Homo sapiens: one gene and its partner. The protein of the gene in region 2 purifies or fractionates together with the protein of the main gene of each other region. This does not show direct contact. Each region holds a gene or a part of one and is shown on either strand. Other genes may lie near its edges.

The links.
Region 1: the proteins of THEM5 (region 2) and ZYG11B purify together in Homo sapiens (co-immunoprecipitation; 2 studies listed by BioGRID and IntAct, with this or other methods). This does not show direct contact.

The regions. Positions count from the first base shown.
Region 1 is NC_000001.11:52,764,377-52,771,668, reverse strand, and holds part of ZYG11B (protein zyg-11 homolog B), read right to left. Parts: intron 650-7,292; coding exon 1-649. UniProt on the Homo sapiens protein: Serves as substrate adapter subunit in the E3 ubiquitin ligase complex ZYG11B-CUL2-Elongin BC. Acts to target substrates bearing N-terminal degrons for proteasomal degradation with the first four residues of substrates being the key recognition elements.
Region 2 is NC_000001.11:151,846,399-151,850,802, reverse strand, and holds the end of THEM5 (acyl-coenzyme A thioesterase THEM5), read left to right. Parts: exon of another isoform or gene 1-570; intron 571-2,510; coding exon 2,511-2,621; intron 2,622-2,940; coding exon 2,941-3,065; intron 3,066-3,388; coding exon 3,389-3,432; coding exon of another isoform or gene 3,433-3,683; 3' UTR 3,684-3,702; downstream 3,703-4,404. UniProt on the Homo sapiens protein: Has acyl-CoA thioesterase activity towards long-chain (C16 and C18) fatty acyl-CoA substrates, with a preference for linoleoyl-CoA and other unsaturated long-chain fatty acid-CoA esters.

The DNA of each region.
Region 1 (7,292 bases), about 99 Mb from region 2:
TTATCTGTCACGTGCTTTCTCCCAGAAACATCCAGAGAAACAAGGTTAGGTAGGATGTCTTTTTGTTCTAGTAAGCGAAGAGCTATGTCTGATGTAAACTGTTTATCATCTGAGATATCAAGATGATTCAGATGTTTGAGTTCCCGAACTACATCCAGTATCTGGGTAGTTGTCATTTTTAAACATTTCAAGTGGTGCATGGTTAGAGACTTGAGTCGGTCTTTGCAGGCCAGTAGAGCAGTGATGTCTGTGATTGAGGTGTTAGAAATATCCAAGCTCTCTAATCTTGGCAATGAGGCAACTTCAGCCAGGTCTTCATTGTAAAAGAGAACATTCGTGATGCTTAAAGCTCGAAGGCCAGAAAGCCGGCTGAAGCAGCGCTCGTAAGGATCCTCGAGGGAGAGAGTTAATGAATTCAGCACCAGGCACTGGAGATTCTGCTGGATCCATTTGTTACTGCCAAGCCCACTGATAATGTCTGTAATCGTGATATCAGCATTCACACCTGTGGCATCAAGTTCCACTAACTTGTGGTGGCAGAAAGCTTTCCGGAAAGCAACAGCAGAGATCTTTGCTTTGCGAATGCAGGCTCGCTTTAAGCGCATCTGGTTGCCCCTAAAAATACCCACAGTTCCATCATTCAATAGACCTGTGGAAAAACAAGCAGCGTTTTAAATTCAAAAAACAGTTAAAGAATAGCCAAAATTTCCATCACACTTTACATTTCCAAAGCGCTCCCATGTAACAGTATCTCGTCTGATAATCACAATTCATTTAGGTGAGATTATTATTGTTTACAACTTGTAGATGAGTAAACTGGGGCTCAGAGAGTGGCTTTCCAAGATCACAGGGCTAGCAAGTGGCAGAATCAGGACTGTGGCAGACATTATTGATATCCACTAACATCTAGTTCTTACCTTACCAGACAACTACATTTCCCAGCCCATCCCTGGAGTTAGCTGGAGCCATGTGCCTAGTTCTGGCCAATGCACTATATGTTGAAGCACCTGAGAGCCAGTGCATGATTTTCCATGCTGTCTTTTCCTGCTATGACAAACGAGGAGACTTCACGTTCTAGAGAGTATAGTTATATGAGGAGAAACCCTCCATCAGTTTGGACCCTAGGGTGACCATGAAGCAGAATCCTCTATGGACTTGCAGAGTTTATGTACCACAAGTGAGGTATAAACCTTGTGTTAAGGTATTTGATTTGTTACCAATACATTTCTAGCCTATCCTTTAAATTCACCTTAACATATTATTATACAAACACATATACACATAATATATTTAGCATGCACTTAATGCCTTGTAATTCATTAATAAACCACTAGCCAGATCTCAAACCTTATTAAAGCGATCTAGGCCTGGGAAACATAGCAAGACCCCATCTCTGCAAAATAACTGAAAACGAGTTGGGCACAGTGGTCATGCCTATAGTCCTAGCTACTAGGGAGGCTGAGATGGAAGGATCATTTGAGCCCAGGAGTTTGTGGTTATAGTGAATTATGATTGCACCATTGCACACCAGCCTGGGTGACAGAGTGAGAACCTGTCTCTGAAAAAAAAAAAAAAATATATATATATATATATATAGTAGTTACAGCTTCCCCCCACACTCCCCCTCCTGCAGATGAATGTAAATGAAGTCGACACAGTAACCTCTTGAAGTGCCTTCGAGATCTACCTGTCTACCAATCAACAGTGTCACAAGCATATGATACTCTGGAGGCACATCAACATATCACATATCAACTAAACAACATTGACTGTGAAAGAAGTAACAATCATGCCAAAAACAGGTAGTCTAAGAATAGTATGGGGTGAATGAGCAGTTGAGGACAGGTAAATAAATAGCCTGAAGTCATGAGAGGAACTCTAAGGCGGCATCTTAGCTGGCCCATACTCAAAATGCAGCTAGGCTGCCAGCCAGTCACCCTTAAATTAGAAATGAGGTGTTTTTAAAAGGGAGCACTATTCTCTAATGAGTTTTGCAGACTTAATTACAGTTACACAGTTAAAATCAAGAAAGGCCTGTGCAAAACCTGCCAAAGTGGACAAAAATGACTAATTACATATTAAGAACTCCATTACATTTTAGAGCTGTGCTGCCCAATACATAGTCACTAGCTCCACACAGCTGGAGAGCACTTGGAAAGCAGGTGGTACAAAGTGAGGTCAGCTATAAAGTACAAAATATACACCAGATTGTGAAGACTTAATACAACAAAATAATGTAAAGTATCTCAATTTTTTATATATACTACAGGTTGAAATGATCATTTTTTAATATATTGGGTTAAATAAAAATTATTAAAACTCGTTGCACTTGTTTTTCTTTTTATTTTTTTATGTGGCCACCGGTAAATTTAAAATTACATTTCGATTAAACAATGTAGTTCTAGAGACAGCCTTTCAAATTACCTGCACTCTATTTCAGGAGAGTAAATTTCATGATGGGGTCCATTCAGCAAACAGTTTATTAAACAATTACTATATGTCAAGTACTCTAAATGTTGTAGATACAAAGAAAAATAAGATATGCCCCTATAGTCAAAGGATTCATAATCCCATGGAGTAAAAAAGACACAAACAGCCATAACAAAATGAGATATATGGTATATCAATGTCAAGTATAAAGTATCACAAAAACAAAGAAAAGGAAGTAAACCATCATGAATGAAGATCTGGAAAAGATTTGATGGGAGAGGTGATCTTTGAGTAAGGCCTTTGAAAATGCTGGAAGAATTCAAAGATAGAGAAAGGAGGTTAGTAGGCCAGGTGCAGTGGCTCATGCCTATAATGCCAGCATTTTGGGAGGCCGAGGCGGATGGATCACCTGAGGCCAGGAATTCGAGACCAGCCTGGCCAACGTGGCAAAACCGCGTTTCTACTAAAAATGCAAAAATTAAATGGGTGTGGTGGTGCGCGCCTGTAATACCAGCTACTTGGGAGGTTGAGGCAGAGAATCACTCGAACTTGGGAGGCGGAGGCTGCAGTGAGCCGAGATGGCGCCACTGCACTCCAGCCTGGGCGTCAGAGCAAGACTCCATTTCAAAAAAAAAAAAAAAAGAGGAAGAAGGTTAGGTATATTAAAGCAAGAATATACAACATAAGCAAAGTCTTAAAGATGTGAAAGCATATCACGGGGTTAGGAAATGGCAAGTAGTTCTTTCTATATTGCTTGAACATAAGAAATAGCTAGAGCCATAGATGCAGTGCATTTCTGGGGATATAAGCATGCAAATGGGACAGAAGAAATGAGGCTGAAGGTGAGCTGGAGCTAGATCACTCTGAAAGGTGAAGAGATGAAAGCAGATCAGCTAGGGGGGACCTTGGGACCCATGGAACAACGCAGAAAAGTTCCTGGTTTTTTTCTGGTCATATATCCCAGATCTAAAGTTGAAGGAGCCAGCAGCCTGGAAACACCAATGGGCACAGACAAAAACCTCCCCCAAAATCTGCTCTCTCTAGCCAACGTACCAGGAAAGCAGCAACTAGTAAGACAGGAAACAGCTAGTAGACAGTAACTGCTCTACTTCAGCCAAACACGACAGAAAAAACTGCAGCTCCACCCATGCCAGCAAATGCCAATAGGGGCCTAGATTTCTACCCCTGCCAGGCTGTAATTACTTGCCCCAATCTGCCCACAGGGGAGGTGTTAGAGAAGTCTGAGTAGAGAGCAAGGACTTTCATTCCTGCTGGGTAGTAAGAACTATCCCCCACCACGATGTTAGTAGATACCTTCTGGGGAGCCTGAACTTCAACACTCATCAAGCAGCGATGAAGTTCTCTACCTGCTTCCCTGCTGGGGTGCTGTCATAGGAAGTCTAGTGGAAAGTCAGGACTTTCACAACTGCCCAACAGTAATGAGGCCACCTCCTCCCAACATGGTGTCAGTAGAAGCCAACTGGGAAGCAGAAATGACATACCCATACCCCTCTCATTTAGGGAAGTATCAATAGAATCCTAGTGGGGAGTCAGAATTCCAACCTCTGCATAGCCCTGCACCTTGGGTGTCAAGAGAAGCCAAGTGGGGAACCAGAAAGAACATTAACCCTAATCTGGCTGGGCATAGTGGCTCACACCTGTAATCCCAGCACTTTGGGAGGCCGAGGCGGATGGATCACAAGGTCAGGAGATCGAGACCATCTTGGCCAACATGGTGAAACCCCGTCTCTACTAAAACACAAAAAATTAGCCAGGCCTGATGGTGCCTGCCTGTAATCTCAGCTACTTGGGAGGCTGAAGCAGGGGAATCGCTTGATCCCAGGCGACGGAGGTTGCAGTGAGTTGAGATCGCACCATTGCACTCCGGCTTGGGCAACAAGAGCGAAACTCCACCTCAAATATAACATAACATAAAATAAAATAACAACATAACATAAAATAAAATAACAAAATAAAATAACATAAAATAACAACATAAAATAAAATAACAAAATAAAATAACATAAAATAACAAAATAAAATAAAATAACATAACGTAACAAAATAACATAACATAAAATAAAATAACAAAACAACATAAAATAACAAAATAAAATAAAATAACAACATAAAACATAACAAAATAATATAACATAAAATAACATAAAAAATAAAAATAACATAAAATAAAATAACATAAAATAAATAAAATAAAATAATTTTTTTTTTTTTGAGACGGAGTCTCGCTTTTCACCCAGGCTGGAGTGCAGTGGCGCGATCTGGGCTCACTGCAAGCTCTACCTCCCGGGTTCACACCATTCTCCCGCCTCAGCCTCTGGAGTAGCTGGGACTACAGGCACACGCTGCCATGCCCAGCTAATTTTTTGTATTTTTAGTAGAGACGGGGTTTCACCGTGTTAGCCAGGATGGTCTTGATCTCCTGACCTCGTGATCCGCCCGCCTCGGCCTCCCAAAGTGCTGGGATTACAGGCGTGAGCCACTGTGCCTGGCCTATAAAAATTTTTACAAAGAACATTAACCCCAATCTGGCAGTAACAAGGCAGTGCTCCTACCTTCCACTGCTGGAGTGACGTCAGTGACTCAAACTAAAACAGAAAAGTCTCATATCACCTAAAATGTCCTGGTTTCAATAAAAAATTACTCTGAATCATACTAAGAACCAGTAAGACTTCAAACTCAAAAAGAGATAATCAATATATGCCAACAGTAAGGTAACAGAAATGTTAAAATTATTTGACAACGATTTTAAAGGAGCCATAAAAAAATGCAATTAAATTTTCAAAAGTAAACAAATATGCTTGAAAAAAAATGAGTAACAGACCAGGCGCGGTGGCACTTTGGGAGGCCAAGGCAGGCAGATCATGAGGTCAGGAGTTCGCGACCAGCCTGACCAACATGACGAAACCCCATCTCTACTAAAAATACAAAAATTAGCTGGGCATGGTGGCACACGCCTGTAGTCCCAGCTACCCAGGAGGTTGAGACAGAAGAATCACTTGAACCTGGGAGACAGGGGTTGCAGTGAGCCAAGATCGCACCACTGCACTCCAGCCTGGGCGACACAGCAAGATTCTCCATCTCAAAAAAAAAAAAAAAATTTAAAAAAAATTTAATAAGGAAAAAAAGAAAAAAATGAAAACAGACTCAGCAAGGCAAGAGAAGATATAAAGAAGAATCAAATAAAAATTTTAGAAGTGAAAAATATAATAATGCTTGAGGTCAACAGTAAAATAGAGAACAGAGAAAAAAGACTGGTGAACTAGAAGATAAAACAACATAAATTACCTAATTTAAATAACAAGAACAGAATGGGAAAAAAACCAAAACCAAAAACCTAAAGCTATATTTGTGTCACTGGAATATCTCAAGGACAGGAGAAAGACAGTGTGGCTGAAAAAGTACTTAAAGAAATAATGAGCAGGCACAGTGGCTCATGCTTATAATCCCAGTACTTTGGGAGGATGAGACAAGAGGATTACCCGAGGCCAGGAGTTTGAGACCAGCCTGGGCAACATTGCAAGACTCCATCCCAACAACAAAAAATTTTAATTAGTCGGGCATGGTGGTACATACCTGTAGTCCTAGCTAGCTAGTCGGGAGGCTGAGGTCGAAGGGTCGCTTGAGCCCAGGAGTTTGAGATTATAGTAAGCTATGATTGCACTCTAGCTTGGGTGACAGAGTAAGACCCTGACTGGGAAAAAACAAAAAACAAAAAACAAAAAACTGAGTGTGGTGGCTCATTCCTGTAATTGGGAGGCTGAGGTGGGAGGACTGCTTTGAGCCCAGGGGTTCAAGACCAGCCTGCACAACATAGAAAGACATCATCTCCATTACAAATTTTTAAAAATTAGTCAGATGTTGGTGGCATGCACCTGTGATCTCAGCTACTTAGGAGGCTGAGGCAGGAGGACTGCTTGAGTCCAGGAGTTCAAGGCTGCAGTGAGCTATGATCATGCCACTACACTCCAGCCTGGGAAACAGAATCAGACCTTGTCTCAAAAAATAATTTTTTTTAATTAAAAAAAAAGATAGGCTGGATGTGGTGGCTCACGCCTATAATCCTAGCACTTTGGGAGGCCAAGGCAGGAGGACTCCTTGAGGCCAGGGGTTCAAGACCAACCTGGCCAACATAGTGCGACTCCATCTCTATTAAAAAAAAAAAAAAGATCACTCAGAAAAATTGGAAGCAGTGGTTTACATGGAGTTAAGGGAATTTTATCTGATGGCTTCAATTTTCTTCCTAAGATAAATGGTAGAAAGTCTGAGAAGAGCAAAGAACATCTGAAACTACTGTTAGGAACACTAGTTTACTGGGGAAATACTCCAGAACTCCTGGGCAGTGCCGAGGAGCCCGCCTTTATGTTACTGACTTCCCTCCTTGTCATTCAGGTCTCAGTCTAGTATCACCACTTTAGAAGCTTTCTCTGATCATCCAAGTTAAAACATCTCCCTTCCTTTATTATTCTTCTTAAGAGAACAGTGTTCTTTTTCCCTCAGAGAACCTGGCACAAGCTGTAATTCTATATGTTTACTTCCTAATTGTGTCTCCCACTGGACTATACGCTCCATGAAAGCAAGATTCATGTTGCATTCATTGTCTTATTTAAATATTCACAGTAATCCCTGTGAGGGAGTTATAATTATCAACACTTTACAGATGAGGAATCTTAGACTTGCAGAGTAACTTATCCAGGGTCAAAGAGCAAATTAATGTTGGAACCAGGACTCAGACCTAGGACCGATTTATAGAACTCATGCTCTTTTCTTATTTTAAAAAAATCTTGGCTGGGTGTGGTAAATTACACCTATAATCCCAGCACTTTGGGAGGCCAAGGCAGGTG
Region 2 (4,404 bases):
CCACTTTGAGAAGAATGTGGTACACTTGGAAGAGGGCAAGATCCGGAATCTAGACTCTGACTTGGTGTCCTGCCTGGCTGCTGCTGGCTGTGGGACTCTGAGCAAGCAATTGACCCCTGGTCTTTAGTCTTCTTACCTGAAACCTGGGGCAATAATATCTACCTGCCAGGGTGACCAGAGATATGATATTATGGGCCTATGTGTGCGTGCTCATGAACCGTAAAGCACAGTACAGCTATCAGACACTTCTACCCAAAACCCATGTTCTATCCATGGGGAAATGGAGATGCACACAGCTAAAGTAACTTGCCCGAGGCAGCACCAGCAATCAAAGTCAGATCCAGGACTCTAATCTGGGAGGTGAGATTCCAAGTCCACTGTTCTCTCCACTCTACTCTGCTGCCTCCAGACTTGGAACAGACCTCAGGAGGAATGCACACTGGGCATAAATGTGTCCACAAGGGAAATCAGGCTGACCGTGGGTCACCAAGTTCATGGTTGTCCCCCTTCTCTTCCATCCGGATGCCTGCTCCAGACAGTCACTGAAGGCTGGAGGTGGTGCTGGAGCTCCTGCAAGGGAGAGACAAGAGAGGGCAGGAGTGGCTTTAGGGTCCTGAAGCCTGAGAGGGGCTTAACTGGGGTTAAATAGAATCCAGAGTGCTAAATAGATGTCAGGGCCTCCAGAGGCTGTGGATGCCAACTGCAGCCCTCAGTCACCTTGGCCATCCCAAAGGAGTCCTCCACAGGGACACTGCTCCACACACTAGGCTGTGCAGATACTAGTGAATTGCTCAGAGCCCTGCCCAGGCCATGGACTCCCTCCTTTCTGAAGCATGGCTGACTTTTATTTAGGGGCTGATGGAAGTGAGGCCAAAGAGGCAGAGGAGGACCATCCAACACTAAGGCCAGTCAGTGGATTGAGGGGTTGGGGGTCTAGAGAAGAGATTAGTATCCACCAGGCCCCTAGACCATGGGGAGTGGGAAGGAGGAGTTACTCGTTGGCCAAGAGCTACTCTGTAGATCCACATACTGGCCAATGGGTCCCCAGGCTGGCCAGTGAGGACAAGGAGGAGAGAGTTGGTTTCGAGTTCTTTGACACCAACTCTTTTCACTCTCTTTCAAGCAATTTGGGAGGCAGACAGGGAAGTGCCTAAGAAGTGTGTAAATTATGTTTGCAAACATTTGTTTATTTAATCTGCTGAGATCAGAATTGTGAAATTCATGGTGGAAAAACTAAGGCTCAGAAAGGTTTAGCAATTTGCTCAAGATCAAACATGTAGTGAGCTGTGGGACAAGGAGTCCAACTGGGTGGATAGAGACTAAAGAAGCAGGGAGGGAAGGGTCTGGAAAAGCCACTGGTCACAGCAGCAGGAGGGTAACCCATGGCAGTACAGTGTGGACAGCTGATCTGGCTCTGTGGAGAATGGGCTGTGCTTTTGAAAATCAGGAACTCAAATCTGCTTGGTGTTATTTGAATTCTAAAATGGGTGCCTATTTTCCCAAATTAGCCAACCATGAAGTAGCTGACATAAAGCTTGCAAAAGCAAGAATGAACATTTTACGCTTTTTTTTTTTTTTTTAATTTTGAGACAGTCTTGATCTGTTGCCCAGGCTGGAATGCAGTGGCACAATCTCAGCTCACTGCAACCTCCACCCACCGGGTTCAATCGATTCTCATGTCTCAGCCTCTCGAGTAGCTGAGTTACAGGCGCTTGCCACCACACCCGTCTAATTTTTATATTTTTTAGTAGAGACGGAGTTTCACCATACTGGCCAAGCTGGTCTCGAACTCCTGACATCAAGTGATCTGCCCACCTCAGCCTCCCAAAGTGCTGGGATTACAGGCGTGAGCCACTGCGACTGGCCATTCTATGCATTCTAAATAAAGCAAATGTCTGCGGCATTTGAGCATTTCAGCTCAATTTCAGCATTGAGCCTGCTGAAGCAGGCGCTCTGCTTTCTGTGGCAACGCTGCTCAGAAGTGTGTCATGCCAGCCCTTGATAGGTCATAAGTTATGTTTCACATTTACTTATCTTGAGATGTGGGCCCCGCACTGGCTGTAGTGACTGGTAAGGTGAGAAACAGCCCAGGGTTGTGCCTCAAAGACTGAGTCAAAAAGTTCAGGGACTTTTTCATTTCCTGTATATGCCCATCCTTCCAAATTATGGCAATTATTGCCAGCAATTAGGTAATGAACCAGAAAAATGTTTTCTATTAACTTTATCAGAAAAAAACAATTTCCCTGATGAAATAAAATGTTGTATCATTGGCTGCAAACGCATGCTGAAGCAAAACAGAAAAGCTCAGTTGATTTTGACGGGTTTGATCAGATGGGATGCAGCTGTTTCCTTCTTTCCTATTTGGCTGCCCTGAGGCTGAACGTCTGTGTTTGGAAGGGTCTAGGGAAAGGGAAAGGTAGGATCACCACAGGAGGGAGGGAAGGCCCATTGAGGGGGTCTGCCCAGCAGCCCCAGCCCAGGCCTTGCTCCTCACCTTACCCCACCCCCAGGTTTGCTCACGGCGGGTCCCTGGCAGCCATGATGGACGAGACCTTTTCTAAAACTGCCTTCCTGGCTGGAGAGGGGCTGTTCACACTAAGTCTCAACATCAGGTTCAAAAAGTAAGTATGGGCCCCTGGGGCATTGGCCAAAGTCACAGACCTTTTCATCCCTGGAAGTGGCCATCCTCGGCAGCTGGGGTGTAGGAGCCCTGCCTGCCACTCTCCTTCCCCAGCCCACTCCCAAGCAATTCCTCTAGTCCCTGGCCAGGACACAGCCTCTGCTGTCCAACTTTGGGAGCTGACAAAAAGGCCCTGAGCCCAGGGCCACTTCTGAGTCCTCGAGGCCGGGAGGGATGAAGAGAGGGAAGAGGACACAGAGAGTGAAGGGATGGGGAACCGGGTTCACATGAGAGATGGGCTAAGCTGCCTCGTCTCCCAGCTTGATCCCCGTGGACTCTCTGGTTGTAATGGACGTAGAACTGGACAAGATTGAGGACCAGAAGCTTTACATGTCCTGCATCGCCCACAGCAGAGACCAGCAGACAGTTTATGCCAAGTCCTCAGGTAAAGGAGCCCCCAGCCCAGCCCCAGGCCCCGTCCCACCACCACCCACCCCCAGAACAAACAGGAGGAAGAAAAGATGCCAATGATTCATCCCAAGCTGCGGTCCAGCTTCTTTAGGGGTGGGATAGGGCACCTACTAGGGACACAGATGAAGCAAGGGAGAGCAGAACTAGGATTTTTTTTTCTATATATGAGTTATCCAACCTGTAACGAAAGGACAGGACCCAGGTAATGGGTAATTTGCAGCCAAATGCTCAGAGTGTCCATCAAGCTCCAGCCATCTCAGTGCAGCTCTTGCAGCTCAACTCACCCTTCTCTTGCAGGTGTTTTCCTTCAGCTGCAGTTGGAAGAAGAGTCTCCCCAGTAACAGTCACTGTGCCTGCAGGAGAGCCACTGCCTCCCCTGCCTGCCTCCTGCCTCCTGCCTCCCCTGCCTGCCTCCTGCCTCCTGCCTCCCCTGCCTGCCTCCTGCCTCCCCTGCCTGCCTCCTGCCTCCTGCCTCCCCTGCCTGCCTCCTGCCTCCTGCCTCCCCTGCCTGCCTGGGACCCATCAAAGAGCAGGGAGGGGTCCTCAAGCAGCAATTGGTGAGGCGAGGGAAAGGACCCTTTTCTCTGAGTAAATAAAGTCTCACAGTCCCATTCTCGGCCCAGGGCCTTTCTGTGGTTGGAAATCAAAATCCTTCCAGGGCATCTCACATACCCACCTTCCCATTCAGCACCGACTGAAAAGATTTACTGAGTACCCGCCAGGTGTCAGGCACTGTGTGAGGCACCAGGCACCCAGAAGTGAAAGACAGGGCCCCGGTCTCAAGATGCACAATGCGGGAGCCAGGTGCCAAGTCAGAGTGCCCTATCACGCTCCTCCCACACCCACCCTGGCTTCCATCATGAGTGCAGTGTCATCTCAGCGGGAGGAAGGGCTAATTTTACTCTACAAAAGCAATCAGAAAACATCTTCTAGAAGAAGCTCTTCCTGAACTGTCTCAAAAGTTAAGTGGTGTTCATTAGGCAGGCAGGGGAGAGGAGGATATCCCAGGCAGAAGGGAAGTAAGAAGTAAGACAAAGGTGCAGAGGTGTGAAAGTGTACAGGGACTTTGGAGAAGAGCAAGGTGTTGAGGAGGGCAGGCGTTTAGGGAAAGAGAAGGTGGGCAGGAGCAAACCACAGGAAGGCTTCATAATCCCTGATGGAGAGCTGGAACTTTGTCTTGCAGGCAACAGGGAGCCTCCAAAGGGCTTGGGCTGGGGAGTGACAGAGCTTTGTTATTTAGAAAGATGACTCAGTGGCAGTAAGGCGTCAGCAAGACTGAAGGCAGGAGTACTAGTTAGGAGATCCCCACAGGC